Homo sapiens: one gene and its partners. The protein of the gene in region 4 purifies or fractionates together with the protein of the main gene of each other region. This does not show direct contact. Each region holds a gene or a part of one and is shown on either strand. Other genes may lie near its edges. The genes, in order: TCEAL9, P3H2, TBCCD1 and KRABD3.

What was found.
Region 1: the proteins of KRABD3 (region 4) and TCEAL9 purify together in Homo sapiens (affinity purification with mass spectrometry; 2 studies listed by BioGRID and IntAct, with this or other methods). This does not show direct contact.
Region 2: the proteins of KRABD3 (region 4) and P3H2 purify together in Homo sapiens (co-immunoprecipitation; 3 studies listed by BioGRID and IntAct, with this or other methods). This does not show direct contact.
Region 3: the proteins of KRABD3 (region 4) and TBCCD1 purify together in Homo sapiens (affinity purification with mass spectrometry; 2 studies listed by BioGRID and IntAct, with this or other methods). This does not show direct contact.

The regions. Positions count from the first base shown.
Region 1 is NC_000023.11:103,351,749-103,358,984, reverse strand, and holds TCEAL9 (transcription elongation factor A protein-like 9), read right to left. Parts: upstream 2,480-7,236; 5' UTR 2,379-2,479; intron 1,903-2,378; 5' UTR 1,824-1,902; intron 1,371-1,823; 5' UTR 1,301-1,370; coding exon 986-1,300; 3' UTR 523-985; downstream 1-522. UniProt on the Homo sapiens protein: May be involved in transcriptional regulation.
Region 2 is NC_000003.12:190,117,887-190,125,401, forward strand, and holds the start of P3H2 (prolyl 3-hydroxylase 2 isoform a precursor), read right to left. Parts: upstream 3,012-7,515; 5' UTR 2,846-3,011; coding exon 2,366-2,845; intron 1-2,365. UniProt on the Homo sapiens protein: Prolyl 3-hydroxylase that catalyzes the post-translational formation of 3-hydroxyproline on collagens. Contributes to proline 3-hydroxylation of collagen COL4A1 and COL1A1 in tendons, the eye sclera and in the eye lens capsule.
Region 3 is NC_000003.12:186,550,336-186,557,358, reverse strand, and holds part of TBCCD1 (TBCC domain-containing protein 1), read left to right. Parts: intron 1-583; coding exon 584-950; intron 951-2,274; coding exon 2,275-2,461; intron 2,462-2,607; coding exon 2,608-3,105; intron 3,106-6,079; coding exon 6,080-6,209; 3' UTR 6,210-6,230; intron 6,231-7,023. UniProt on the Homo sapiens protein: Plays a role in the regulation of centrosome and Golgi apparatus positioning, with consequences on cell shape and cell migration.
Region 4 is NC_000007.14:149,717,940-149,724,962, forward strand, and holds part of KRABD3 (protein KRBA1), read left to right. Parts: intron 1-1,529; exon of another isoform or gene 1,530-1,606; coding exon 1,607-1,733; intron 1,734-2,068; coding exon 2,069-2,188; intron 2,189-2,895; coding exon 2,896-3,051; intron 3,052-3,440; coding exon of another isoform or gene 3,441-3,443; coding exon 3,444-3,596; coding exon of another isoform or gene 3,597-3,904; exon of another isoform or gene 3,905-4,101; intron 4,102-4,434; coding exon of another isoform or gene 4,435-4,482; coding exon 4,483-4,614; intron 4,615-4,843; coding exon 4,844-5,017; intron 5,018-5,794; coding exon 5,795-5,950; intron 5,951-6,712; coding exon 6,713-6,910; intron 6,911-7,023.

The DNA of each region.
Region 1 (7,236 bases), on a different chromosome or scaffold from region 4:
CTCCTGGGTTCACACCATTCTCCTGCCTCAGCCTCCCGAGTAGCTGGGACTACAGGCGCCTGCCACCATGCCCGGCTAATTTTTTGTATTTTTAGTAGAGACGGGCTTTCACCATGTTAGCCAGGATGGTCTTGATCTCCTGACCTCGTCATCTGCCCGCCTTGGCCTCCCAATGTTGGGATTAGAGGTGTGACCCACCGCGCCCGGCCTTGGGTTTGTTCTTAATCACAGATAAGAACTACTTTCTCCACCCTTCCAAATCGCTGAAATTAATCTCTTACGGAGTTGGGATGGGAACAAAACTCTGTCAAACATAGCTCACAGTCATTACTCTATTTGGCCCTCACCAGATCCTTGTGAGATTATTTTCTTTATTTTAAAGATGAGAAAATATGTAAAATTTATTATTCTAGCTAAGTGGTCTGGAGTTACTTTCAAGTTCACATTTCTTCTAAAATTCTGTCAACAAATATTAAATGCCCCAATACTTTTAGAAATAAACTAATACGTGCTGCTTGTTGCTTCTTTTTTATAAAACTTTTATTATTCTAGCAATAATAATGTGTGTTAATTTTAGGAATATAGAAAATACAAACAAGCAAAAGGAGAAAAATCATTCATAATCCCACCACCGAGAGGCTGTACTTTCTTTCATCCTTCACAAGTTATGTCCATATATGTAATATACAAATGTACTTTTTACCTTTCAAAAATATGATATTCACATATTACTTAGCCTTTTTCCATTTTATATCTTACCAAGAACCTCTTTTTTACAAATGTGTAAAGTTCTTTTATTAAAAGACAGAGACTTGTAGATTGGTTCAAAATACAATAAACAATGAGATGCAGATAACAAGAGATACATCTAAAACCATTAATAGCAACAGGTTATAAGTAGAAATATGGACAAAGGAATATCAGGAAATGCTAATAAAAAGCAAGCTATATGGTATTGTTAATATCAGATAAAAATCAAGGTAAACTACATTAAATAGGGGTAAGGATGGTTTCGATTAACCTTCCAACGCATCACTATAAGTTTGTTTCTGACTCTCCTTATCTCATCTATTTCATCCACTTCTCTAAACATATCTTCATTGCTTAAATGCCTGTTGTGTATATCTTCTTTAAACTCCTGGAGAGATTGAATCAGCCTTTCTCTAAAAGTTCCTTTTGCTTTGGCCTCCTCCTCTAGCTTCTCCTCCTCTTCTGGCTTTTCCTCAGGCTTTGGCTCTTCCTCATGCTTTGGTTCACTCTCATTTTCTGGTTTTCCTTCCATTTTTTGACAGGATTTCATCTTGTATCTGTCTACCTCTCTTCCTTCCTTCTTTTCTTTCTTGCTTATTCTTCTTTGAATACAATGACTTCTAGAAAGCAAAAAGAAGACAGTAAGTTAAAGACTTGGTGAGTGGACAGGTGCTGTGGACAGAGGCCTTAGCATTTAATTTTTTTTATTCAGAGCTGTTATAAAATATCTTCCACCTAAGAAGCCCAGTCAGCAATCAGAGCTTCACTATCCCCACTCCTTTTACCTCCACTTTCCACCTCCTCACTTCTCTCTTGTCCTTCCCTCTAACCTTTTCCAAGGCCCTCCTTTCCGCCGTCCAGCCCTCCCCAGACCTTTTTCCCCCATAGGGCCTAACACAGGGACCAGGCCAGAAAAGAGAAAGGTGGCTGGCAGGCAGAGGAAGAGGGGAAAGGAGAAGGGGGAGAGAAAAGAAGAGGGGAAAGGGGTGGGGTGGAAGGGAGCCGGCAGGAACGGTGGCGCTTACAACCTTTGTCTCCACCCCAGGAGACTTTATAATATTCCTCTCACCTACCTGGCACTGATCGGGTCAGTTTCTTCCTCCTCCTTTTCTAGCTTTGGGTCTTGCTGGAAACAACAGCCCTGCAGATAAACTGGAAACGGGAGGGGACGGTGGGGGTGGGGCGAGCGCTTGGTGGGCCGACCAGCGCCAGAGACTGACACACGTAGCTTTCCTCCTTTAGGGTTTCGGATATGGAAAGTTTCCCACCTTTTGTTTCCCCTAGTTCACCCCCTCTCCACAGTGCATGCAAGTCAGTTCGTTTTTCCCATCAGACAAAGAGTGAGAAAGCAGATTATTTCCAAACTATCTTTAAGACTGAGGCGGGGTTCGGGAGGAGGGTGGGGGTCCGGAAAGCAGTCTTAGATAGCAGAGGATGATTATTTTTAAACTACCACAGGTCTCCCTGTTCTTCTCCTAGGACCCCTAGTCCCTTTCCCAAGGGTCATCAGTTCCCGTAGACCTGGAGGTGGAGGGTGGAGGGACGGACCTGACCGGCACTCCCACAAGTCTCTGCCTTAAACCCCCCCACACTAGAAATCCCCAGTCAACACCTACAGTGACACCAACCTGCAAAATTCCCGCAAGTTTGACTCCTTCCACGGGCCTCAGGGACCACCGCCTGCGCTGCTGAAGGAAGCTGGTATCCAGACGGGAACAAGGACCAGATTACCAGGACTTCTGCACACGTCGACTCCTGGTCACATGAGATCTACGTCACCAGTGAGCTCGGGTCCCTAATTTCCACTCCCACCAAAAGCGCGGCAGAAGTGGGCCCACCCTCTCTCCCTCCCCGCCCCCCACTTATACATTTGGCCCTGTCAGTCTTTTCTGTTGTTTCCTATCCCAGCGGGAAAAATGTTATTTGCTTGACTCTGATTACTAGGGAGGGGCTACCTCTTTTTCTGGAGCTACTGAACTTTTCTACTTCTTTCGAGAATTGTCTCTTCCATTCTTCCACTCCCAGGATAACTCCTCCATCAGTCGTCCCTCCTCTAGCCTCCATTTCCTCTGCAATCTGGTTCTTAGCTGTTGTAGAGCAGGGTGGCCTTGGCAGCAGTTGTGAAACAACAACAAAAAAAGACCCTGGAACAAGAGTGAGATTTCTGAATGCAATTTTTACTTTTTATTTTTCGTACTTCTATATCCTTTTTAAAAAGGTAACTTTAATCTCTCTCTCTCTCTCTCTCTCTCTTCTTTTTTCTGTCTTTCTTTCTCTTTTTTTTTTTTGAGACAGGGTCTCACTCTGTTGCCCAGGCTGGGTTGCAGTGGTGCGATCACAGCTCACTGCAGCCTCAAACTCCTCGAAACGAGTGATCCTCTTGCCTCAGACTCCCAAGTATCTGGGACTACAGGTGTGTGCCACCATGTCCAGCTAGTCTTTTAATTTTTTTGTAGAGACAGGGTCTATGTTCCCCAAGCTGGTCTCGAACTCCTGGGCTCAAGTGATCCTCCTGCCTCAACCTCCCAAAGGGCTGGAATTACAGGCCTGAGCCACTGCACTGGGCAACTTTTATCTTTTTATAGTCAGAAAAGACAAAGAAAAAATTACTTTAATGACATGAGTTAATACATGTACAGTGCTTATTGTACATGTGGCATATAGTAAGTGCTTTTAAAGTGAAAGCTGTTGTGATATTAGAAGTTTTGTGAGGAAAATGATACAGAATTTTTTAAAAAAGAGTAATGTTTCATTCCAGAGTCCTCATGGTGGTGTTACCAGGAAGCTGTGCTGCCTGAAGAATCATCAATTAATCGTCAGGTACACATTGTGAACCTGAGTTTCCTCATCTGAAAGAAGGGAATAATAGCATATGCTCATAGAATTGAGATCTATTGAAAATAAAAATAAGAGTTAATTTTTCATCTGTACAATTAGAAAAGACAAATATTGATTATATTCAGAGTTGATGAGCATATGGTAAAACAAATATTCACATGTACTGTGAGACTATTAAGTAGTACAACATTTTTGGAAGTCATTTTGGCAATATCAAACTTTAGAAGATATGTGCTTTTGGACACATCAATTCCTCTTCTAGAGATTTATCATACATTAATACTCCTATGCCAAATATGGTCATTGTAGTAGTTGTGGCAATAGTGTTTTTTTTAAAGAGCCAAAAACTTATATGTTTCTAAAAGGAAATTGGTTTAAGAAAAGTTTGATCATTCATATAGAGCCACATTATACAGTGATGAAAAAATGATGTGGAGTTACATTTACTCACATGAAAAAAATTGTTCAATGTATATTGTTAAACAAAAAAAGGCAAATTGAAAGTTAATTTTATATGTGGTATTACATTTTTGTAACAGTATACATATTTGTGTATTTAAAATATGAGTATACAATTAAATTACATGATAACATGATAAGTGAAGTCCAGAAATTCATTCTATAAAATTCCAGGTTATGTTACTGAGAGATGGATGGATGGAATGACTGATGTGAGTCTATTTGGCTAGCTGGCTACACAACCCAAATTCATCAAGGACTCAGCTGTGATTTGTTGCCACAAACAATTCTTCACTGAGCACTTGGACTTAAATATCATCCATCCATTTTACTCTCTCCCCACCTGCTATCACCAATCATGTTATATCCAAACTCAAGTTGTTTCAGGGTCTTACTGTATTTTTATATCATTAGAAATGCAGATGAATATATCCTGAACATCATAGGATATACTTGAGAATGTGTATTTCATATAAAGAGAACTTTTATTTTCTAAGTGTTGTATTTATATATTTAAATTACTAATAAGTTACACAAATTAATTCAAGATGGATTAAAGACTTAAATGTTAGACCTAAAACCATAAAAACCCTAGAAGAAAACCTAGGCAATACCATTCAGGACATAGGCATGGACAGGGACTTCATGACTAAAACACCAAAAGCAATGGCAACAAAAGCCAAAATAGACAAATGGGATCTAATTAAACTAAAGAGTTTCTGCACAGCAAAAGAAACTTCCATCAGAGTAAACAGGTAACCTACAGAATGGGAGAAAATTTTTGCAGTCTACCCATCTGACAAAGGGCTAATATCCAGAATCTACAAAGAACTTAAACAAATTTACAAGAAAAAAACCACCCCATCAAAAAGTGGGCAAAGGATATGAACAGACGCTTCTCAAAAGAAGACATTTATGCAGCCAACAGACACATGAAAAAATGCTCATCATCACTGGTCATCAGAGAAATGCAAATCAAAACCACAATGAGATACCATCTCACGCCAGTTAGAATGGTGATCAATAAAAAGTCAGGAAACAACATGCTGGAGAGGATGTGGAGAAACAGGAATGCTTTTATACTGTTGGTGGGAGTGTAAATTAGTTCAACTATTGTGGAAGACAGTGTGGCGATTCCTCAAGTATCTAGAACTAGAAATACCATTTGACCCAGTGATTCCATTACTGGGTATATAACCAAAGGATTAGAAATCATGCTGCTATAAAGACATATGCACACGTATGTTTATTGTGGCACTATTCACAATAGCAAAGACTTGGAACCAACCAAAATGTCCATCAATGATAGACTGGATTTAGAAAATGTGGCACATATACACCACGGAATACTATGCAGCCATAAAAAAAGGATGAGTTCATGTCCTTTGCAGGGACATGGATGAAGCTGGAAACCATCATTCTCAGCAAACTATCACAAGGACAGAAAACCAAACACCGCATGTTCTCACTCATAGGTGGGAATTGAACAATGAGAACAGTTGGACACAGGGTGGGGAACATCACACACGGGGGCCTGTCGGGGGCTGGGGGCCTGGAGGAGGGATAGCATTAGGAGAAATACCTAATGTAAATGACAATTGATGGGTGCAGCAAACCAACATGGCACATGTATACCTATGTAACAAACCTGCATATTGTGCACATGTACCCTAGAACTTAAAATATAATAATAAATAAATAAATAATAAGTAATATATTAATTACTAATATTCAGAAAAATGTTTGAGACAAAAGTGAAAAATGAAGAAGAAATAAAATATCTGACAAATATTAGACAGCCATGTATCTATTGAAATGAAAATTTTTATAGTATATTGCTATGTAAGGAAAAAGCAGGTTATTAACAGTAACAGTATTAGAATTAGGTATGATTGGGTGGTTGGTGGGCTTATGGATGATTTATATGTATTTTTTTACTTCATTGTAGACTCTTCTACATTTTCTCAGGGGGCATATGTAACTTCTACAGTAAGGAAATGTCTGCAAATAGTATGATTTTATTTTATGGCACATATTTCATATACATACTTCTCTGTAGCTGAACAGGGTCTGAATTAAGGGACTCCACTACCTGTTTGAGACTTCAGATCCTTACGATGGTTGAATCCCTCACATTTCCTTCCCTTGCTCCGCTGACCTCCTCAAAGGACTACATGTTTGTAACTAGTATGCATTAGAAATGAGGGTCTCTTCCCCTTCCTCTGACTATCCCTCCCTTCAATCAAGTTTGAGATGGTCAAAGTGTACTACTACATTTTTAACATGGGGAAGGAGGCATCTCTTTCTTAAATTTGACCTGATGAAAATATTTTCTAGGGAAATATTTTTGCTAGAGAAAGTAATACTTATGGCAATAATATAATAGTTTAAGCAGATTATAAAATAGTATTCTTAGTTGCCAATTCAATTCTTTAAAAAATATGTATGAATAGAAACAGAAAGGATCTGGCTCTGCTTGACATGTGGCATGTATCTATAGTTACCTTACTTTTTTCCAGTAAAAATGTTTTATTTTTTGCAAATAAAGAAAATAACTATTATTTAAAAGCAGGTTATAAATAATGTATATAAAACTATCCTAATTATACTTAAAAATACATATAGGAGGAAGGAAACCCTCAATAATATACACTCAATTTCATTTATTTGGTGGCTCTCAAATATACACTTCATCCACTTATTGGTTTCACAAATATTAATTAGGCGATCACTAGATGTTGTCAGTCTAAACCCTTATGTCCTTTCTGTAGATTTCCTCTCAATTATCACTGAATGTGTTAGTGCAGTGGAGTTGCATCTTAAGCCAAGGATGGATTCTAAAGTCAGCATATAAGGTAAAATCCTACCTAGTCAAACTTACCTACTTCATAGCATATTACTATAAGTTATAATGTTAGTGGGGAAAAAATGAAAATATTTAAACTTAAAATTAAACTCCCATTTAATTTTATGGGAATATAGATTTCTAAAAACTTTCATGTCTATAATTCTTGTGTATTTTCCAAATTTTCCACAGTTTACTTGAATTACATACATAGAACAATGAAATACATAGTTTTGAGATAACCTAGACTTTATTCACTCTTCACTGTATATATGGGCATTCAATTTTTATGTAAATAATACATATAAAACACACACACACATATATATATACAATTTTAAAAT
Region 2 (7,515 bases), on a different chromosome or scaffold from region 4:
ACTGCCAGAGAAGAGAAGTAGGGAGAAGACGCAAGACTTGTTCTGCTCTCAGAAATATTGCTGGTAGAACTGAAATGAACACACGAAGCCACGGATCTTTGAAAGAACTTCTTAAACTTCATTAATTCATCAGACAACACCCAGTAATTCACTTACAGAGTGTGACTTGTTCCTGTAATCAATTCACCACAAAAATTTGAGGTATGTTAAACCTATGGCTTCACCTTCTTTGACCTCCAACCAGGGAACCGGAGGGGAAATGACTGACAAATGCTGACATTAACAGTGAAGCAAGCAGAATTCCAGAACCAGGGAAACCCACATATTGAGAGTTACCTCATGGTTATTTGTTTTTATAGGACTGACCTTGACTATGTATTCTTTCTCCAGATATGAGAAAGGAAAATATGTCCAAAATTTGTGACAGAATTAACAGCAGGACTGCTAACCTTACATCCGAGACTCCTGGGAGGACCAAGCTACAGGGACCACCCATGTTCTGCTCTGGGAACTAGCTTATGATAACTTCACCGTCAGACACTCAAGGTCCCCTCTCTGCCTGGTGTTGACTGATTTCTGTAAGACCACCAGAAATTGTGTAAATCACTTAGAAGAAATTAGAGTTATACTTCATACATGCCTTAGCAATCAGGAGGCACAAGCAAGCAGAAGACAAGTCCTGGAAAGGATTCAGACTTTCTCCTCATTTCTTGCCCAAGATACTAGTCCAGTGAACTCCAACACCTTAGCCACAACACAAGGAAGTTAAGATTTATACTTAGTTGAAATTTCGTGCACTCCACCAACAGTTGCCAATCTGAGAGAACCCTACCACAGATGAGGGCAGAGATCTTGTGGGATGAGCTGCAAAAGGCATTTGGATATTTGAACATGGTATGTACTTTCATCTCCTTAGAAACACAGCCTGGTCCAGCCGTGCTCACGCCTATAATCCCAGCACTTTTGGAGGCGGAGACGGACGGGTCACCTGAGGTCAGGAGTTCGAGACCAGCCTGGCCAACATGGTGAAACCCCTTCGCTACTAAAAATACACAAACACACACAAAAATTAGCCCGGCATGGTGGTGCACACCTGTAATCCCAGCTACTCAGGAGGCTGAGGCAGGAGAATCGTTTGAGCCCGGGAGGCGGAGGTTGCAGTGAGCCCAGATTGCACCACTGCACTCCAGCCTGGGTGACAAGAGCAAAACTCCGTCAAAAAAAGAAAAGAAAAGGAAGAGAGGAGAGGAGAGGGGAGGGGAGGGGAGGGGAGGGGAGGGGAGGGGAGAGGAGAGGAGAGGAGAGGAGGGGAGAGGAGAGGAGAAAAGAAAGCAAAGCAGAGCACAGCAGAGCAGAGCAGAGCAGAGCAGCCTGGTCCATTGGCTAGCATGAACAACCAACCCCAAAGCTTCCACTTTTCCGGTAGCTGTAGAAGATACATTGATATATTAACACAGAAAACGAGAAAGAAGGGTTAAGAGTGTCAATTTGAAGGAAAATTGGGTGAGTGGCAGTGGAGGTTGAAGAACTCATTCAAATTCCCTCTGCTGAAGCATCCAGAGAGATCTTCAAAGTTATGGATGTGAACAATATGTCAATATGCATACTATACCTCCTGACGCTAACTTTAGGCAAGTTAGGCATACAAAAATAAAACTAGAAAGAGAGGACTGATGCCTAGTAACCCAGTCCAATGCATACCACCAGAAAACGTAAGCCCTCTATCAAAGGAGAAAAAGTCAACACTTAGGGTGGATACTTTGACTGAGACTGCCTCAAACAGCTTCGCCTCCTCCAAGCATACCTTCTCTTTAACCTTTGATCTTTACTTTTTTGTAGGTGAAGGGGAGAAGAGAGAGAAATTTGTTTTGGAACAGGTCTTTCAACTTCACTATTTTGAAGATTCTTTTAAACTTCAGAGAAAAGGTGCAGACTACAGTATAGGAAGGATAAGAGAGAGGAGACAAAAGAAATGGGAAGTGAGAAGGGAGAAGAGAAATGGGAAGTGAGAAGGGAGAAGAGAAATGGGAAGTGAGAAGGGAGAAGATAAATTGTACTAGATTCAGCTTTGTCAATGCCTCATGAATTAGTGCTGAATGGGTACTTTAAACATCACCTTATCAGGACAGTCCTCTTTTTGAGAGAGAAGCTGGCTCTGAGAAAGAGAGAAAAAGACTTGTCCAAGTTAATCAATTGTTGCATACAGAGATAGGGCCACCAGATATCTGGATTCACAAACTGAGACACATATTTAAGGAGACCCAATTCGAAAGACTGAACAGAGATGACGGGGGCAGCAGGGAGGGCTCAAGAGAGCGTGTGAGAGCCGCAGGGGCTTTGCAGTGGAGGAGCGCTCTGTGGGTACCTTGATGTAGGCCCGCTGCAGGTAGTTGTAGGGCACTCTGCGCTGGAAGTCGCTGCGCACATCCTCGCTGACGCGGTGGCGGGATGCGGGGCCCCCGAGGCGCTGGGTCTCACAGCTGCGATAACAGCGCGCCCGCCCCAACAAGGAGCGGAAAAGGGGCAGCTCAGCGCCGGGGCCCTCGCCGGGGGGCGGGGGCGGGAGCGGGTGGCGCGCCGCGCAGTGGCGGGCACAGCGCGTGCGGATTTCCCGCAGGCGCCGGTGGCTGCGCAGCGCCGCTTCCAAGTCGCGCACCGCTCGCTCGTAGTCTCCGCTGTAGTAGGCGGCCGCGCCGCTGGCGTAGAGCAGGTCGAAGGGCTGCAGAGGCCCGGGCTCCAGCTCCAGCTCCCGGCGTGGGCTGTCCGGGGGGCCGCCCCACAGTGGCGGCGGCAGTAGCAGCGGCAGCAGCAGCAGCAGCGGCGGCGCCCAGATGCGCTCCCGCATCCTCCGCCTCAGAGAGGCGCGGGACGGTTACGCTCGAGAGGGCTTCGGGGCACCTCGCGTCCGGGTCCCCTCTCCCACCTTCCCTCGGGGAAGCGCGCCGACTCCGCCGCGATCTGGCCGCTCCGCGAGCCCCAGGTGACCGCCGGCGCTCCGCGTACTGAGAGGCGGAGGCCGTGCCTGGCCAGCCGCTCTTAAAGGGACGCCCACAGCTCACACGCTCCTCCTGCTGCCTGAGACTCCGAGAGCCGCTCTCCCAGGCTCCCCGCTGCAGCGGCGGGGCTGCCAGGGGCGGCACACTCCAGCGCCAGCCAGAGAGCTAGCGCCGCTTGAGGCCGGCCGGGGACGAGGCGCTTTACACGTGAGCTCCCTTCTGGTTGTACAAGTGGATAGTATTAGTCTTCTTTTTGGGAAATAAAGAAAATCCAGCTTAGCAAGGTTAGGGCCTTAATCATATTCTGGAATCTCTGTATGGCCTCGCAGTTTGCAGAGTGCTTCACCTTCTAAATGAAGCCTGGAGCGCCATTTCAGACTGAATCAAACCGTAGATGCCATGTGTACCTACGCAACAAATCTGCGCATTCTGCACGTGTATCCCGGAACGTAAAGTTAAAAAAAAAAAGAATAAATAAATAAATAAATAGAAAAAAAACCCATAGAGGCCCTGTAGGCCCAGATGCGGAGGTTTAAGAAGATAAGTGATTTGCCTAAATGCATAGAGCTGAGAAGTGGCAAAGGACGGACCCAACCCAGGGCCTTTAGAACCAAAGCTTACCGCTTCTTCTCTTGGGGAAGGTTTCTCCCTTACCTTTTCGTCCAACTTGGTGTGGATGTGTGTCCGGGCATTGGATCAGGGCGCTGGGCCAGGGGAAGAACAATATATAGCCTGCCTTTCCTGTGCAGCCCGTGGTTTTACAGGGCCCAGAGAACCTTTGGAGGCAGGAGGAGCTGTACTCGCATTCTGGCTCCGTCCGTTTACCAGCTGTGTGACCTTGGCAACTGAGGGCCTCAGTTTCCTCATCTCCTAAACAGCCAGACGCCTAACACGTAAAATGCTATTCAGAAAAAAATTCTTGCTGTGGGCCAGGTGCAGTGGCTCACCCCTGTAATCCCAGCACTTTGGGAGGCCAAGGCGGGTGGATCACCTGAGGTCAGGAGTTCGAGACCAGCCTGGCCACCATGGCAAAACCCCGTCTCTACTAAAAATACAAAAATTAGCTGGGCGTGGTGGCACGTGCCTGCAGACCCAGCTACTCAGGAGGCTGAGGCAGGATAATTGCTTGAACCTGGGAGGTGAAGGTTGCAGTGAGCTGAGATCATGCAGCCTGGGTGACAGAGTGAGACTCCGTCTCAAAAACAAAAAAAACAAAGAAAAAGAAAAGAGAGGAGAGGAGGGGAGGGGAGGGGACGGGAGAGGAGAGGGAAATTCTTATTCTAAGAGTTGAACAAAGAGGCAATTTAGTATATCCCTTACCTCAAGGAATTAAGCAATCTGCATCAATCTAGGAATGAGAAAGCTGACAGAAATGGTTGCCAGATTCCAAACGACTAGCTGGAGGCTTCCTGTTCCTCCCCTTCTCCTCTGTCACGAATACATTCTTAGCCAAGGTGTTCCCCTCTTTCGTGTTCCTTGGCTTCACACTCTCACAAGAATATTGGTTGGACCCTGGATCCCAGCCTGCCTCCTGGAGGCATTTCTGTGGTCTTCTAGTGCCTGTGAGAATCTCATCAGTCTTTCAGCCCCTGCAATGGTGAGCAGAGGGACAGGCAATGGGAAAAAGACTCACGCATGTATCTAGTTGCTATGATTTTTCCGAAGAAGGCTTTTATGTGGAATCACCACTACGCTGAGGGGCTTGCCAGAGATTCATGCTGATTCCTTCATTCATTTTGTTAGGTTTGACCACTCAGGCCATGAACAGCCCTGGCTGTGTAATTCCAAGAGACACTGATGAATCATGCTCTTTTTTTTTCCCACCAAACGTTACTAATTCGGCTCATATCACTGATGAAAAAGCTCCAGTTTGGAGCTGAATGTATATTGAATGCCTTGGATGGTCAGTGTTCCAGAATTAGCACATCAGTCATCTGCCCAGACTTTTTCTCTAGAGATTGTCTGTTTTCAGATAAAGATTTTGGAGTCTAGTCCAGGGTTATCAGTCCACTTGTGGAAGGTTTTGAAGCACATCAGGATAGGAACTCCTGCTGTGGGACTGAGGGCAAAGTGCCAGGATACCTTGCTACATTCTATTTGTACATTTGGTGACATTTCTACATCATTTAATATATTTCAATTAAATTAACAATTTTTGATGCCTACTCTTAAAGTAAATATTCTAGGTGAAAGAGAAGATAAGTCAGGATTCTTACCTTTGGGAAGCTCACAGTACTGTATAGGAAACAAATTTGATATATATAATGTATACAGCTATAATACAAGGTAGAATGTGGTACGTGTTAGATTAGATTGAAAGTGTTGGCCGGGCGCAGTGGCTCACACTTGTGATCCCAGCACTTTGGGAGGCCGAGGCAGGTGGATCACCTGAGCTCAGGAGTTGGAGACCAGCTTGGCCAACATGGTGAAATTCCGTCTCTACTGAAAATACAAAAATCAACTGGGCGTGGTGGCAGGCACATTTAATCCCAGCTACTCAGGAGGCTGAGGCAGGAGAATCACTTGAACCCGGGATGCAGAGGTTGCAGTCAGCCAAGATCGCGCCATTGTACTCCAGCCTGAGCCACAGAGTGAGACTCAGTCTCAAAAAACAAAAAGAAAAAAAAAAAAGAAGAAGAAAGAAAAAAGAGCTCTGGGAACACAGAGGTTACAAAGATAGCTTCTGGCTAGAAGGATCTAAAAAGACTTAGGGAAATAATTGGCATTAGCACACAGTCAATAGCCTATAGAATGCAACCACATCCTACTGATTGCCAAATTGGCCAGGTTCTTTCAAGCCTCTTGTATGTCCTACTACCTTATTTCTTATATCTTACTACAAGTAGTAAGTAAGTAATATGCCTTGTATTACTACCTTACGTACAATCTCTGCCTGACTTGAGAGAAACTATTCATTGACAACTCAAATTTGCTTGAACATTAGAATCACCTAAGAAGTGTCTGGCTTCTGCTCTGAAAGATTCTGATTTATTGGTCTGGGATATGACCTGAGCGATGGGATTTTTAGAAGTTTCCCAGGTGATTATAATACGAAGCCAAGGTTGAGAACCACAGGTCTACAGCTAATGCCACAGCCCAAAGAATAAGTCTATGAGTTGGGGTTCCAGGTGCTGTGTAGAATTCATGAGTAGGTAGGGTTTGGAGAATAGGTAGGGTTTTGTGTAATCCCCCAGATATTCCCTCCCAGGAAAGCCAATCTGATCTGCTTTTTAAGGCTGGATCAGGACAAAAAGTTCATGACCTTATGGTAATAAGAGCCATGCAGTGCCAAGAAGCTGATTCCAGGTCATGCTGTCCCAGTGGTACTTACTCAATGTTGGAACAGACAGTCATCCACGAGTCTCTTATACTCCTGAACTTCTCACAGAGTGTGCCAAGAATGTACTTTTTCCTTAAATAATTAACTGACTTCCATCTCAGAGTTCCGGATTCACTAAACCTGGGGTGGAGCTTTCAAATTTGCATTTCTAACTTGTTCCTTGATGATGTGCTGCCCATACTTTATTATCTGATTTCTTAGGAACAATGGTTCTAAAACTTCGTTGTGTTGTGAAAAAGCTAGTAAGATCGTGGAGACCCTGGATTTTTGAACTAGAATCTAGTCTGGGCCTTTATATTTTTACCAGTTTCTCAGGTGATGCAGATACTAACCAAAGGTTAAGATTCACAGCTTCAGTTAGAGCAGTGGTTCTCAATTGAGAGTGATTGTACTCCCCAGAGGACATTTCACATTATCTGGAGGTATTTTTGGTTGTCGGATCTGGGGCATGGTAGGTGGGAGCATTCATACTGTTGGTGTCTAGTGGGTAGAACCAGGGATGGTGTTGACCATACTGCAATACACAAGACAGCTACCTACAAGAAATAATTATTCAGTCTAATGTGTCAATGGTGCCAAGCCTGAGGGATATAGCATAGTTTGAGCACTGCGAGGCTCATCTAATTCCCTTAACTTAAAAATGAGGATACTTAGACCCACAGGTAGGCAGTAGCAGGAGTACAATGCTTAATTTGATATAGCAAAATATAAAACATATATGCTAGATGTCATGGGGCAGTGGGTGATAGTAGTTTTGTAAATTCTTTTTTAAAAAGCAAAAGAAAAAAGCACATGACAGTAAGAAAGAAAAATATTTGAGAAAAGACGACATTGGAACATAAAATGTTGACATTTCTACTAAGATAGGTATGAACTGGGAGACTGGAATTTTGCTTTTCTTCCTATTCTTTACAAAATCAAAGAATAGCCAGAGCACAAGAGAATCCATCCAAAAACATTAAAGGAGATTCTGGGCGACAGAGCCCTTTTTATTATATTTGGATTGAGTCTTAACAGAGCTTGAATTTCCTTTTGACTTCTGTTTACAAGTCAACAGCATAATTGCACCGTCTTTCTTTAGGGAACCATCAGCAAGTAGGAATTAGAAGAGATTTTTAAGTGCTTCTTATTTTCTCCAAATCAGCTTAGTTTTTAAAAACCAACTTTTCTCCATTCTAG
Region 3 (7,023 bases), on a different chromosome or scaffold from region 4:
CCTCTATCATTTATTATCATTTAGTCATACGATTTTAGGCAAGTCAGTTAACTTCTCTAGGCCTTGGCTTCCCTTCTGTAAGTGAGGATAATAATGCATGTTTCTGAATGACTATGAGACTTCAGTAATATATTAGCATGGGACTTATTGCATAGTAAGCACCAATAAATGGTGACTTTGGTTTATACTACAGCACGACCTCTCTGAGTAACTGATTGGACCGGGGTGGACACTTGAGTAGCCCATTTATTGCTATACATTTGAAATTGGCCAGATTTAAAGTGACGACCTGGGCCAGTCAGTTCCCCCAGGAAGAAATTATGCATTGGTGATAGGTGTTTGAACTAAAAACGCATTTGACATTGGGACTGGAATAGCCATCATGCTTGTTAATGAACTGGAATTCTAAGGGATTAGAAATTCTGAGGCCAAGCCGGGCGGATCACCTTTATAAGGTTTATATAACTACCTAATTCCTTTTGGGGGATGAGGCAGAGTATAAATACAAAATAATTAAAATATAGAAATTTTAGATCTTGTGGAATCTCTTTATTAAGAGTGCTTTCTTTTAACTTTTTTTTAGAACTGGAATGATTACAGTCACCAAGCTTTTGTCTATGATCATCTGTCTGATCTCCTCGAGCTGCTTTTAGATCCAAAACAACTCACTGCATCATTTCATTCAACCCATAGTAGTCTAGTGTCTCGAGAAGCTGTTGTGGCGCTCAGCTTCCTTATTGAAGGTACAATAAGTAGAGCCAGGAAGATCTATCCACTTCATGAACTTGCACTGTGGCAACCACTGCATGCAGATAGTGGCTTCTCAAAGATCTCTAAGACTTTCTCTTTCTACAAACTGGAAACCTGGTTGAGGTCCTGTTTGACTGGGAATCCATTTGGTACATCAGCTTGCCTCAAGTCTGGAAAGAAATTGGCTTGGGCTCATCAAGGTATTTTTTAATATTTTAATCTACATTAAATTGAATGACAACTTAAGGAACCTAGTGTTTTCTAATATATTAGTGATCTCGTGTCTTCTCTAGAAGACCTAAAAAATACTGCTCCTATAAAAGAGAAAAAGGAACATCTGTCTTTTGTGCATGACTTTTTCTCTCAAGGATTATACTAAAATATTAAAAATGATAGTAGGATTACAAATTATTTTTATCTTCTTTTACTGTTATTTTTCTAAATAACCATATATTATGTACCTGGTACATGTGTAATAAAAGTAAACGTATGTAATAAAAATAAACAAGAAATGTTTTAAAAGAAGAAGAATAATAGCATACTCATGTGACCTCCCAGTATTTCAGCGGTGTTGTTTACAAGGGTGTCCCGGTGGCTTGCAGGGAGGTACAGTCTGAGAAGGCAGTCACGTAACGGTGTGACTGTGTTAGGAGAACCTGCGCGTATTTTTTGAGTGTCAGTTTGTGCAACACACTGTGTGGGATAGGAAGATGTGCTCTCAGGTAGTAATGATCTTAGGAGTAAAGACATGAACTCAGGCTGGGTGCGGTGGCTCACACCTGTAATCCCAGCAATTTGGGAGGCTGAGGTTGGCGGAAGGTGAGGAGTTCGAGACCAGCCTGGCCAACATGGAGAAACCTCAGCTCTACTAAAAATACAAAAATTAGCCAGGCGTGGTGGCATGCACTGGTAATCTCAGCTCCTCAGGACGCTGAGGCAGGAGAATCTCTTGAACCTGGGAGGTGGAGGTTACAGTGAACTGAGATTGCACCACTGCACTCCAGCCTGAGTGACAGAGTGAGACTCCGTCTCACAAAAAAGAAGAAAAAAAGGCATGAACTCAAATAGGATTAATGGGATAATGTGGTAAGTTAGGAAGGGTACAGAATTAATATTATGGTAATTTAGAGAGGTGAATTACGTTTGGGATGATAAAGTAAAGCATCTTGGAGGAGAAGATATTTGAGTTAGGACAGCTTTGCCACTTACTAGCCATATGACCTTAGGCATAGACCTTAACTTGAAGCGTAGACACGAAAAAGTATCTTAGACTTATAGGCAATCTTAAATTCATTATAGGTTTTAAAATTTTTTTTATAACAAAAATGAAAATTCCAAACATACAGAAAGGAATAGAGAATAGTATAGCAAATACCTCTATCCAAAGCCCAGATCTAACGTTTTTGTCCCTACATGTGGTATCTAATTTGAGACATATATACATGTAGACGTGTAACCTCATATGTTTGTTTGTTTTTCTTTGATTTGATACTGCCTCATCTATTTATATGTTTTCTTAAATAGTTGAAGGGACCACCAAAAGAGCTAAGATTGCTTGTAATACTCATGTGGCCCCTAGGATGCACCGACTGGTAGTGATGAGCCAGGTTTACAAGCAGACACTGGCTAAGAGCTCAGACACTCTGGCGGGGGCACATGTAAAGATTCATCGTTGCAACGAATCTTTTATATATCTGCTCTCTCCCTTACGGTAAGCACAGTTTTCATGGTGTTCTGATGTTCTGACATTTTCTTTGGACTGTGACTGATTCTTTTTTTGCCATCAGATAATAATATTTTAGTCAAATTTTTAAAATCTTATTCAGAGGACTTTACCTCATTTTTTCCTTTTTTCAGATCTGTGACAATTGAGAAGTGCAGGAATAGCATCTTTGTCTTGGGCCCTGTAGGGACTACACTTCACCTCCACAGTTGTGACAATGTTAAAGTCATTGCTGTTTGCCATCGTTTGTCCATCTCTTCTACAACAGGTTGCATCTTTCACGTTCTTACGCCTACACGCCCACTTATTCTCTCTGGGAACCAGACAGTAACTTTTGCCCCTTTTCATACACATTACCCAATGCTAGAGGACCATATGGCCAGGACTGGCCTTGCTACAGTGCCTAACTATTGGGATAATCCAATGGTTGTGTGCAGAGAGAACAGCGACACAAGAGTCTTCCAGCTTTTACCACCTTGTGAATTCTATGTATTTATTATTCCCTTTGAAATGGAAGGGGACACAACAGAGATACCCGGGGGTCTTCCATCTGTATATCAGAAAGCACTGGGTCAAAGAGAACAGAAGATACAGATCTGGCAGAAAACTGTGAAGGAGGCTCATTTGACAAAGTGAGTATTTTTTACAAGTAACAGTTTGTGTTTTTTGTGAAACTCCATGGAGAAACAAATTAGTCTGCACATTTTTACAGCTGTGCTAAAGTAATAAAAAATGTAAGGCTGGGCGCGGTGGCTCACGCCTATAATCCCAGCACTTTGGGAGGCCGAGGTGGGTGGATCACCTGAGGTCAGGAGTTTGAGACCAGCCTAGCCAACATGGTGAAACCCCGTCTCTACTAAAAATACAAAAATTAGCTGGGTGTGGTGGCGTGTGCCTGTAATTCCATCTACGTGGGAGGCTGAGGCAGGAGAATTGCTTGAACCCAGGAGGCGGAGGTTGCAGTGAGCCAAGATCGTGCCATTGCACTCCGGCCTGGGCAACAAGAGTGAAACTGTGTCTCAAAAAAAAAAAAAGTAATGTGTTTTTAAATTAAGGTTTGGATTTCAAATTAGTATTTCAAACACTGTTAGGTTGGGGATGGGAGTGGGTAAATATCCAGTATTAGACTCCCTTTTCTTAAGAAGCTAAAGTTTAGTTGGCAAATATAAGACTTACATGAATTTAAAAAATCATACATAGAGTATGCCACATAATCCAATACCATTCTAGGCACCTTCTATGTGCTAACTCATTTATTCTTTGTAATAACACCTTATTACAGGTGAGGAAACCGAAGAACTGAGGAATTAAGTACTTTACCCAAAGTCACACAGGAGCCAGGATTCACACCTAATCAACCTGGTTCCAGAGGTTCTTTTTTTTTCTCTGTTCTGACTTCTCAGTAACCAGAGGTTCTTAAATGCCTCTAATGTCTTCATTGTTTTCTTTCAAATATTGTCATACCATATCATACTGTACAATAATAACATTATAATAATGTGTTGTAAAAATGGATGATCATGAAAAAACATTCTTTTAAAGCAGTTCTGTTGTTTGAATGGTTCTAGTATTTAAATGGTTAGATTCTCTACACTTGATCTCAGCCAAAAGGCCAAGAAACGATGAAGTGCTTAGATTCTCTTACATGTGAAAAGCTCCTGCATATACATGTGCAGACTGTGGGATGTAAGCACTTAATAAATGCTGACTCTGAGTCAGTGTTTTCAAGTGGTGAGATCCACAGTGATCCCAGAAACAATGAAAGTAGTCAGTTTAACTTTGGGAATATAGGAAGACAGAAATCAGTTTGAAACAAATTGCCAGTGTGACCCTTTTAACAGTGATTACATCATGTCATTTCCCTGCTCTGACCCCTCTAATGGCCTCCCATCATACTTCAAATAAAATCCAAAGCCTTTACCATACTTACCAGGCTCTCTCTTCCTCAATTTCTGCCGTTCTTTTCCTCATTTCCTCCTTCCCGGCATACAGCAGTCATCTTACTATTACTTAATCACTGCCCTCTGACCAAAGACCACCAGGAACACATCTATAGAACAAAGGTGGATTGTGTTGACTCATGGCAAGGAGGGAGAGAAGTGTGTTTCATCTCAGTAAAAGGTTGGGGAACATGGAAAACTGTGTTTCAACTCAGTAAACAGGTGTTAAAAGGAACTTATCGTTGGATTTTGGCTTGTGTTAATGATTTGGGGGAGAGTTCTAGGAAGCAGGACTATCTGGAAGTGAGAGTAATGTGTGATTTGACAGTTTAATAACTTTTATATCTAAGGCAGGAGGAAGGAAGGAAGAGCTAAAACTATAATTGTAAAGAAGTAGCCACTCCTCCAGGAAAGGAATGTTTAGTGATTTTATGGTTTGGGTCACAACATTTTTTTGGAGGTTGGTGTGGGGGTTTCTGAACTGAGATACGATTACGGAGTGATCTTGTTCTTTCTTTGGTCTATCATCATCCCAGAGTGGCTTTGTCTAATGGTGGTGGTTTAAGGTATTGTTTATGTTCAACAAAAGAATACAATAGCAAGTCCAGATCCTACACCAAGGCCTAGCTGACAGTGCTAGGCTAGCTCCTGGCTGTCAGGAGCTACTCTTCTCTTTCTTATCATGAACATGTGAAATACGCTCTCACTTTGGAACCTTTGTACTTTTTTGGTCTCTTCTGCCTGGTATATTCCTCTCCAAATACTCATTCTGCTTATTCCATCATTTCATTTAGACCTAAGCTCAAATATTATCTTAGGGAGGCCATCTCTCTCCATTCTTTCTCTGAAATAACATTTCCAGAATTGCTATTCCTTCACCCTGCTCTATTTTTCTCCATGGCACCTAGAACTACTTAACTTTATATTATATTTTTATTGTATTGTATTGTATTGTACTGTATTTATTTTGAGACAGCATCTCGCTTTGTTGCCCAGGCTGGAGTGCAGTGGTGTGATCTTAGCTTACTGCAGCCTCCACCTCCTGGGTTCAAGCGATTTTCCTGCCTCAGCCTCCCGAGTAGCTGGGACTTAACAAACATGTGCTACCATGCCTGGCTAATTTTTATATTTTTTGTAGAGACAGGGTTTCACCATGTTAGCCAGGCTGGTCTTGAACTCCTGGCCTCAAGCGATCCACCCGCGTTGGCCTCCCAAAGTGCTGGGATTACAGGCGTTAGTCACCATGCCCGGCCTATTTATTTTATTTTTACCTATCTTTCCTACTAGAATATATAGTCTTCAGGAGCATGGATTACACAGATCACAATGTGAATGGTGCCCTCTGGAGTCGTGAAGTGTCATCCTGCTTCAACAGGGGCCTTGTCTCTTCTCTATACATTTATCCCCATCAGTCAGAACAGTACCCAGTGTTCACTTGGTCCTTGGTAAATATCTGACAATGAAAAAGTAGAAAGAGGACATTGTATCTGATCAATCCTTTGTGGGGTGGGGGTGTCCAGTGTACTCTGAACAGTGAGAACAAAAGGATAACAAGAAATAATTAATCATTTAACATTATCCTATTAAAATATTGTATAATTGCTTAGAGTACAATTTATATGAATTCATGTTCTTATATTCTTTTTACTCATAATCGCAATTTTAGGGATCAAAGGAAGCAGTTCCAGGTACTGGTAGAGAACAAGTTTTATGAATGGTTGATTAATACAGGACATCGCCAACAGCTGGACAGCCTTGTACCCCCTGCAGCAGGCTCCAAACAAGCAGCTGGATAAGGATCTTACATGCAGACACTGGTAGGCATTTATACCACTTAAAACAGATTCTTTTGGGGAAATCTTTCAAGCATAAAAAAAAGGCACAGAATATTATATACTAAACATGCCCAAATTTTTTCTACCGCTCCTACCAGCATACACGGACCTTTATGTACCCATATTTACCATATTTTATAGTGAGAAAACCAACCAAAATATTCAGATGGAGCCTATAGAATTTGGGGCCAATATAATGGCCAAATTTTGTCTTATTTTGCTTTTTGCCTGGGACAAGTTGTACTGTCCAAAGATACCACATTCCCCCATACATAGTTCTAAGTTTTATTCTCCTTTTCTAAACCTTTCCTCTTATCCATTCCCCTCACAAAAACCAATTTACAAATTAGCTGATCTTTGCTAATTACACATATTAGCAGTAATAAATTACCAGAATTAATCCAAATGAAGATTTGATTACTGAACACTAGAAGATCATGGATTAAATAGAAGAGAATATGCATACAAACAAATTTACTGGAAGTAAATTTAATCCAGACATATGGTATTCTTTTTTTTTTTTTTGAGACTGAGTCTCTGTCTCTCGCCCAGGCTGGAGTGCAGTGGCGCCATCTCAGCTCACTGCAGCTTCCGCCTCCTGGGTTCAAGTGATTCTCGCACCTCAGTCTCCGGAGTAGCTGGGAAAACAGGCATGCACCACCACAGCTGGCTAATTTTTGTATTTGTAGTAGAGGCTGGGTTTCACCATGTTGGCCAGGCTGGTCTCAAAACTCCTGACCTCAGGTGATCCACTTGCCTTGGCTTCCCAAAGTGA
Region 4 (7,023 bases):
AGACACCCACCACCATGCCTGGCTAATTTTTGTATTTTATTAGAGATGGGGTTTCACCATGTTGGCCAGGCTGGTCTTGAACTCCTGACCTCAGGTGATCCACCCACCTGGGCCTCCCAAAGTGCTGGGATTACAGGCGTGAACCATCACACCCAGCCTGGGACAGTTTTTAGAATCACTGACTTGGGTGGGTGCAGGGGCTCACGCCTGTAATCCTAGCACTTTGGGAGACCAATGTGGGAGAACCACTTGAGCCCAGGAGTTCAAGACTGGCCTGGGCAACATAGTAAGGTCCTGTCTTTTTTAATTAATTAATTAAAATAACTGCCCTGAGCAGATGAAACAAGCGGTGAATTGTCTTTGCTTTATTAGGGGCGTGTTCATTTTCTTTAATAATTTGTTCTCACAAATAAACAGTTTAACATTCATTTCTCAACAGGAAGGACCCTTCCCATAATTTACCTTCTGTTTGCTTAATTTGCACAGTTAATTTTTGCCATAATTTTAAATTCAAGCCTATTGATGCTGGTCATTTTCTAGTGTCTGATGGCCACTTTAAAGTCCACTGAAGGACTTTTTTTTTTTTTTTTTTTTTTTGAGATGGAGTCTCGCCATATTGCCCAGACTGGAGTGCAATGGCGTGATCTCGGCTCACTGCAACCTCTGCCTTCCGAGGTCAAGCAATTCTCCTGCCTCAGCCTCCTGAGTAGCTGAGATTACAGGCGCCCACCACCACACCTAATTTTTGCATTTTTAGTAGAGACAAGGTTTCACCATATTGGCCAGCCTGGTCTCGAACTCCTGATCTCAGGTGATCTGTCTGCCTTGGCCCCCCGAAGTGCTGGGATTACAGGCGTGAGCCACCACACCCAGCCGAAGGATTATTTTGTAAAGAAACATAGACAAAAATGCTCGTGTTATTTTAAAAAGCCACAGGGTAGGAGGAGATGAGTACAGAGAATAGGAGATAGGAGTACAGGGTGTAAAGGAGCCTGGTGACCCAAAGCTTCCAAGGGCAACCCCAGGTTTCTTCTGAGCACTTCTCTAAACCCAGCACACAAACTAGGTGGACAGCAAGAATGTCTTCTCTCACAGCCCTGCAGACCCGAAGCCCTACGTCACAGTGTGGGCAGGCCACACTCCCTCTGAAGGCTCTGGGCCAGGATCCTTCTTGCCTCTTGTGGCTTCTGGTGGCCCTGGGCATTCCTTGGCTTGTGGCTGCATGACTGTAGTCTCTGCCTGTCTTCACACAGCTTTCTTCTTTTGTGTCTGTCTCTGTGTCTCTTCTGATAAGGAATGAGTCATACTGGACTAAGGGTCCCCCCTACTTAGGAGTATGACCTCATCTTAAGTAATTCCATCTGCAGGGACTCTGTTTCTAAATAAGGTCCTACTTACAGGCGTGAGGGTTAGGACTTCAGCGTGTCTCTGCAGAGACACAGCTCACCCCCAGCACTGTCTCTTGAGGGGATTCCTGCATGTCAGACCCTGGCTATTATCCTGGAGTGTGCGCCTGGAGGCCTAGGTGGGGTTACCAAGTGCAGGGACAGCTAGGCTGTCCCCTCTGGGATGGAACAACCAACCCCCCCGGAGACTGTGCCTGCAGGTGTCCATCACCTTCAAGGACTTGGCCGTGCGGTTCTCGGAGGAGGAGTGGCGGCTCCTGGAGGAGGGGCAGAGGGAGTTCTACCGAGACGTGATGCGGGAGAACTACGAGACGCTGGTCTCTGTGGGTAAGGACGGGAGGGAGCAGCACGTGTGGCAGGAGCCTGGTGGGCGGTGGAAGGGAGGCCGGAGTCCCTGGACCCGGCAGCCTTAGTCTTTCCACCTGAGAAATGAACACGGGGATCGTTCACGCTGCTGCTATTCTATGTCCCGGGACCGGGTTCTAGGTACAATTCGGTGGGGGTATGCGGCGGCCTCTGAGGTTCCGACCACTCTGCGGTTCTTTGAGTTTAAGTGGTCACATGAATGTGCACAGACCTGCAGGGGCCTGGGCTGCTATGCAACTGTGTGCGAAGCGGAGACCACTCCATTCCCAGGGCCACAGTTCCCTCTTCTTTCCCAGGGACAGCTGAGCTGCTCCCCCTCTCTGCTTTCCTGTCACCCTCAGAGCCTGGAAGAGCTGTTGGGGGAGGGAGCCACGCTGATGAGGGGCAGGAGCCTGCTGGTTGTGGAGATCCCCAGGGTAAGTTATCTGTCAGACTTTGGGTGTCTCCTCCCACTCATCGGTCCTCAGCCCCAGGCAATGCGTGACCTCAGCCTACTCAGTCCAGCCTCTCACCTCCCTGCCTCCCCTACTGCAACCTCCCAAGCTTTCACCCCTCATCCCTCTGGGCTGGAAGCCTGTTATGCAGAGAAGCACTCAGAGAAAGCCTGGGGTCACCCTGGAGAGTACCTCCTGCCTCAGGCCCCCCACCCACCACCACCCTGAAGCCTTATCACAGCCACCCCTGCAGAACCTGCTCCAGCTCCCAAAAGTCCTGCCACGAGGCTTACATCCCAAGACCTCAGATGGTGGATGTGCTCCACCGGCCCAGACTGGGCAAGGCCAGGCATTTAGGGGGTGCCAGGAAAGGCAGAGGGCCCAGATGGTGGAAGAAGTGTAGCGGCAGCCCGCCTGGGCATTCCCCTGGGAGGCATGGAGATTAATGAGTAACGTAGAACAGAGGAGCCCTGTTACCCAGGCCCCGCCCCCATGCCCTGGCTGTCCCTTGGCCAGAGCGCCTGGCCTGAGCCCAGGTCCTCTATATCTCATGGGACATGGTGTCTCCTCTGGCTGCTCCTCATGTGGCTGGGAGGATTACGTGAGATGCTGGGTGTGAAAACACGCACGTAGGTGTGAGTGCTGAGCAGCCGCAGGGGTGCGGGGGGGTCACTGTGGCCTCTCTGCAGGGGGACAGCCCCGGCACAGCCTGCACCTCACAGCCCTGGTGCAGCTGGTGAAGGAGATCCCAGAGTTCTTGTTTGGAGAAGTCAAGGGCGCTATGGACAGCCCCGAGAGCGAGAGCCGGGGAGCCAGCCTGGATGGAGAGAGAGCGAGCCCCGAGGGTAAGTCAGACAGTGGGGCAGTGCACGCAGCCTCCTCTGCACTCCGCATGATGAAGCACAAGTCCACGGCACTGCACTGCATGTGGGCTTGCAGGCACAGGCCGGGAGGCAGAGTCACCTGCTGTTCCTCGTGGCTAGGCCGTGTGCCGCCCTCTGAGCACATGCCCATAGCTGGCGAGAGGGCAGCTCTGACTTTCGCATGGTGGTTTCTGTGTGGCTTTGTCACCCTCCACCCACCATGGCCCCATTCAGAGCCCAGTGATGACAACACATAGGTGGCTGACATCCTGGTCATTGTTAGTACATGGCAAGGAAAGGACCCAGAATGTGACAGTGTGACAATGTTAGGGGCATCTTACCAGTTGTTGATTCTCCCTCTTTCCCGACAGCAGCTGCGGCAAGAGAGCCCTGCCCTCTCCGAGGCCTGCTCAGCTGCCTTCCAGACGGCCCTACCAGCCAGCCCCACCTGGCCACCACGCCCACCGACAGCTCGTGTTCCAGTGGCCCAACTGGTGACGGGGTCCAGGGAAGTCCTCTCCCCATCAGTGAGTCTGACACAGCAGGGACAGGGAGAACCAGCATTTCAAAAGCCCTGATCGTGGCGTCAGAGGACCTGGACCCTGTGCCCTCTTCATTTTTTTCTAGGACTCAGTTCCCCTGTTGTGCTGTTCTTTTGTTAACAAAGTACGCCAGGGAGCAGGACAACATATTTAGCCTCTGGTGTAACCACCAAAGAGGAGGCATGATGCTCAGCCCCTGGGGAGCCTGTCATCCCGCCCCGATCACTGAGCACTTTGTACACAGAAAGTCTCCGGCAGTTTCTAACATGCAGGCCCACGGCCAGCAGCATTGACCTACCTGTGTGCACTGGTCTGATCCTTAGACCGTCTCATCACAGCAACCCTAACTGCAGAGCAGGGCAAGGGGAGCTCCTAGGATTTCTCTGGGGTCTCATTTTATTTTTAAAACTTCTCACAAATTTTGCATGTCTGTTTTTATAAAAAAGTACTTCAAATTTATATGGAATAAAATTGGCACTCCCAAAGAGCATACCCCATTTAGCTGTGGTTTCATCTGGTGTTCAGGGGTCGTCGGGCACACTTGCTCTGGGGTTCTGTGTGCCCTGTGTGTGCCCTGGTTTGAGAAGCGTGAGTGTGAGATTGTGGCCTACATGTCAAGGCTGCCGGCATCACTTCCTGAGCCAAATTCCGAGGCTGGGCTCAGGGGGAAGGGTCTGGGAGTGTTCACAGTGAACCAACAGTCTTGCTGTTTCCAGTTAAACCAGAAAGAAACGGTAAAGGCCCTCAGCCCACCTCGAACAGGGACTTGGGTGGCTGGAGAGGGCTGTCCTCTATGGGAACCAGATCTGGTGTGATTTTCCAGAGTCTGGAGCTGGGGCTAGAAAGGCCCTCTTGTCTTCTCCTGCAACAGAAACTGCCGACAAACCGTGGCCTACAAGGAAGGAAGGCCCAGGAGCCCTGGGCGGGGAGCCCAGCCCTCCCACCCATAGCCCCAGCAGGAGGAAGAGCCACAGAGGACAGGAGAGAGGGACCTCAGAGGCCGGTGAGAGGCGGGCTTTCCTTAGTGGGGTAGCGATGGGGAAGTGTGTTTAGTTCACACGAGGAGGTCATGCTGCTCCGCCGCCTGGGCCTGGTGGCAGCTCCACCGGGCAGGCCTTGTCTGCATTCTCACGGGTGGGAATCTCAGCCGCCCGGAGACCTGAATGCCTGCCAGCGCTCCCGGTGTCCCGTCAGGACTGCACTGACCCAGGCCCACCTTGCATGTGCCACAGGAATTTCTCCTGGGAACAGCCCCTTGCAAGGCCTCATCAACTGTCTGAAGGAAATCCTTGTGCCTGGGCCCCGGCACCCCGAGACATCCCCAAGCTTCTTGCCACCTCTCCCTAGCCTGGGCACGTCCAGGCTAACCAGAGCAGACCTGGGGCCTGGGAGCCCGCCCTGGGCAGGTGAGTTCTGGGGCCTCAGGCTGAGGTCTCTGAAGCTTGGTTTGCATTTCAACAGCGATTCCTCCTGCTCCAAACTGTCTCCCTTAGGGATCGTTACCAGCTTGGTCGCTGCTGTGTTGCCAGTGTCACCTTTCTGGAGCCAGGTGGCTCTCTTAAGGGCAGCGTTTGGTCAGCTGGGAAAAGGAAACTCGGAAGCAGGCTTTGCCCTGGTTTCTTCATGTCTCTTCCTCCTCCTGACTTGGGACCCGAGGGGAAGAGCTGCAGAGCTCATGTGTTGCTTTGCATTGACGCCAGGCATGATGCATGGGGTGGGCTTGGGCTCTGGACAGCATGGTGGAGGGGCCGGGGCACAGGTCTTGGAGTCAGACCCGGAGAGGCTCCTGATGCCTTGAGCCTAGGCTGTTCCCACTCACAGGGCCGCAGTGAGCTTAGCTGCAGTAATGTACTTACTGTACAACTCCATTTTCCTCAAATGTAAGTTCTGTTCAGGACCCCAGAGCTGTCTCAAACAGTGACCCTGACAGCCCACTTCCTTCAATTTGTCCTCAGAGTGATGCCACTTGTCTGCCTGCAGGGCGAATTCCATGGCTTCCCTCTTTGCCCTGTCCGGTTCTGGCAGGTGTGTGGACCCAGGCACTGGGAAGACTCAGCGAGCCACTGGAAGAGCCTCATCTTCAGAGTTGGCCCCACGCCCTTCTAACTTGTCCCCTGTTTGTTGTTTGTCATGAAGGCTGAGGACACTGAGCTCCAGGTGAAAACATGTTCCTTTTTCCTTAGTGAAGACCGAGGCGGTTTCAGGGGATTGTCCCCTCCAGGGTCTGCTACACTGTCTGAAGGAGCTCCCCGAGGCCCAGGACAGGCATCCCAGTCCCTCAGGAGTGGGGAACCGACGGCTACAGGAGAATCCAGGAGCCTGGAAAAGGGGTTCTGGAGGTAAAGGCTTCTCGCTGGGCTGGGAGGGCCCCCAGACATCCTACATTACCCTGCCCCAGGCAGGGCTGTAGGTGGCCCCCACCACAAACACTCAGGCCCCCATATTGGCCTGTCGGGAAGAGGATCCGGATGCGGGGGATCCCCACTGTGTAAGTGGAGCGAGCTGTGTGGGAGGGGCTCGGTCAGCGCTTGATAATTCTCAGGCTGGCTCTTAGAGGAGGAGCTGGACATTCTGAAAGGAAAGTGGGGAGGGAGCGAGATCAAGAAATAGAGGATGGAGCTCTAGCCCAGCACACACGCAGCTCCTCATTGTGGCTTGGGGTCCTGTGTGTTTGGGTCAGGTTTCTGCCATGTGTGTGAGAGCTGGGAACCCCAAATCCTAATTATACCCACCCAGCCCACACAGGGGTTCGTGTTCCGTGCATGTCACCTCAGCTTGTTAGCTTCTCAGAACAAAGCCCTGAGCAGCTGGGTTGAGTCAGGTGTGCTGGCCATGGAGAAAGACATGATTGGTGCTGTCTGGGGAGGGCTGACTTCATGCCTGGTAGAAACCTTGGAGGCACCCCAAGGGGCCATGGTAGGGGAGGAGGCGTGTGACTCAGGTCTCTGCTGGTGATTGACAAGTGACAGCAGTCTGAGCCGGTGACTGCCGTGGAGGCACAGGGGCTTTGGAAGCCCCTCCTAACCCTATAAAGGCCTCAAGGGATTCTCAGGGTGAGTCCAGGCCTGAACCTTGGGCTTCCCAATGGCCTCCTCCCGCAGGGCCTGGATACCTCCTGACCCCTCCTCCCCATCCTGATCTTGGAGCTGGCGGTCTGCTCTCTGTGAAGATGGAGAACAGCTGGGTCCAGAGCCCCCCAGGACCTGCATCCTGTCAGCCTGGCAGGCAGCCCCTCAGTCCCTCAGCCACTGGAGACACCAGAGGGGTCCCCCAACCCAGCTGGGGCCCTGAGGCTCAAGGTGAGGCCTGAGATTGGCTGCTCTGGTGGTCTTCCCCATGGGCTTGTCAGTCCCTGGCAAGGTTCCACTAACCCCAGGGAAGCAGCTCTCAGCAGGGAGCCGCCCCCTGGCCT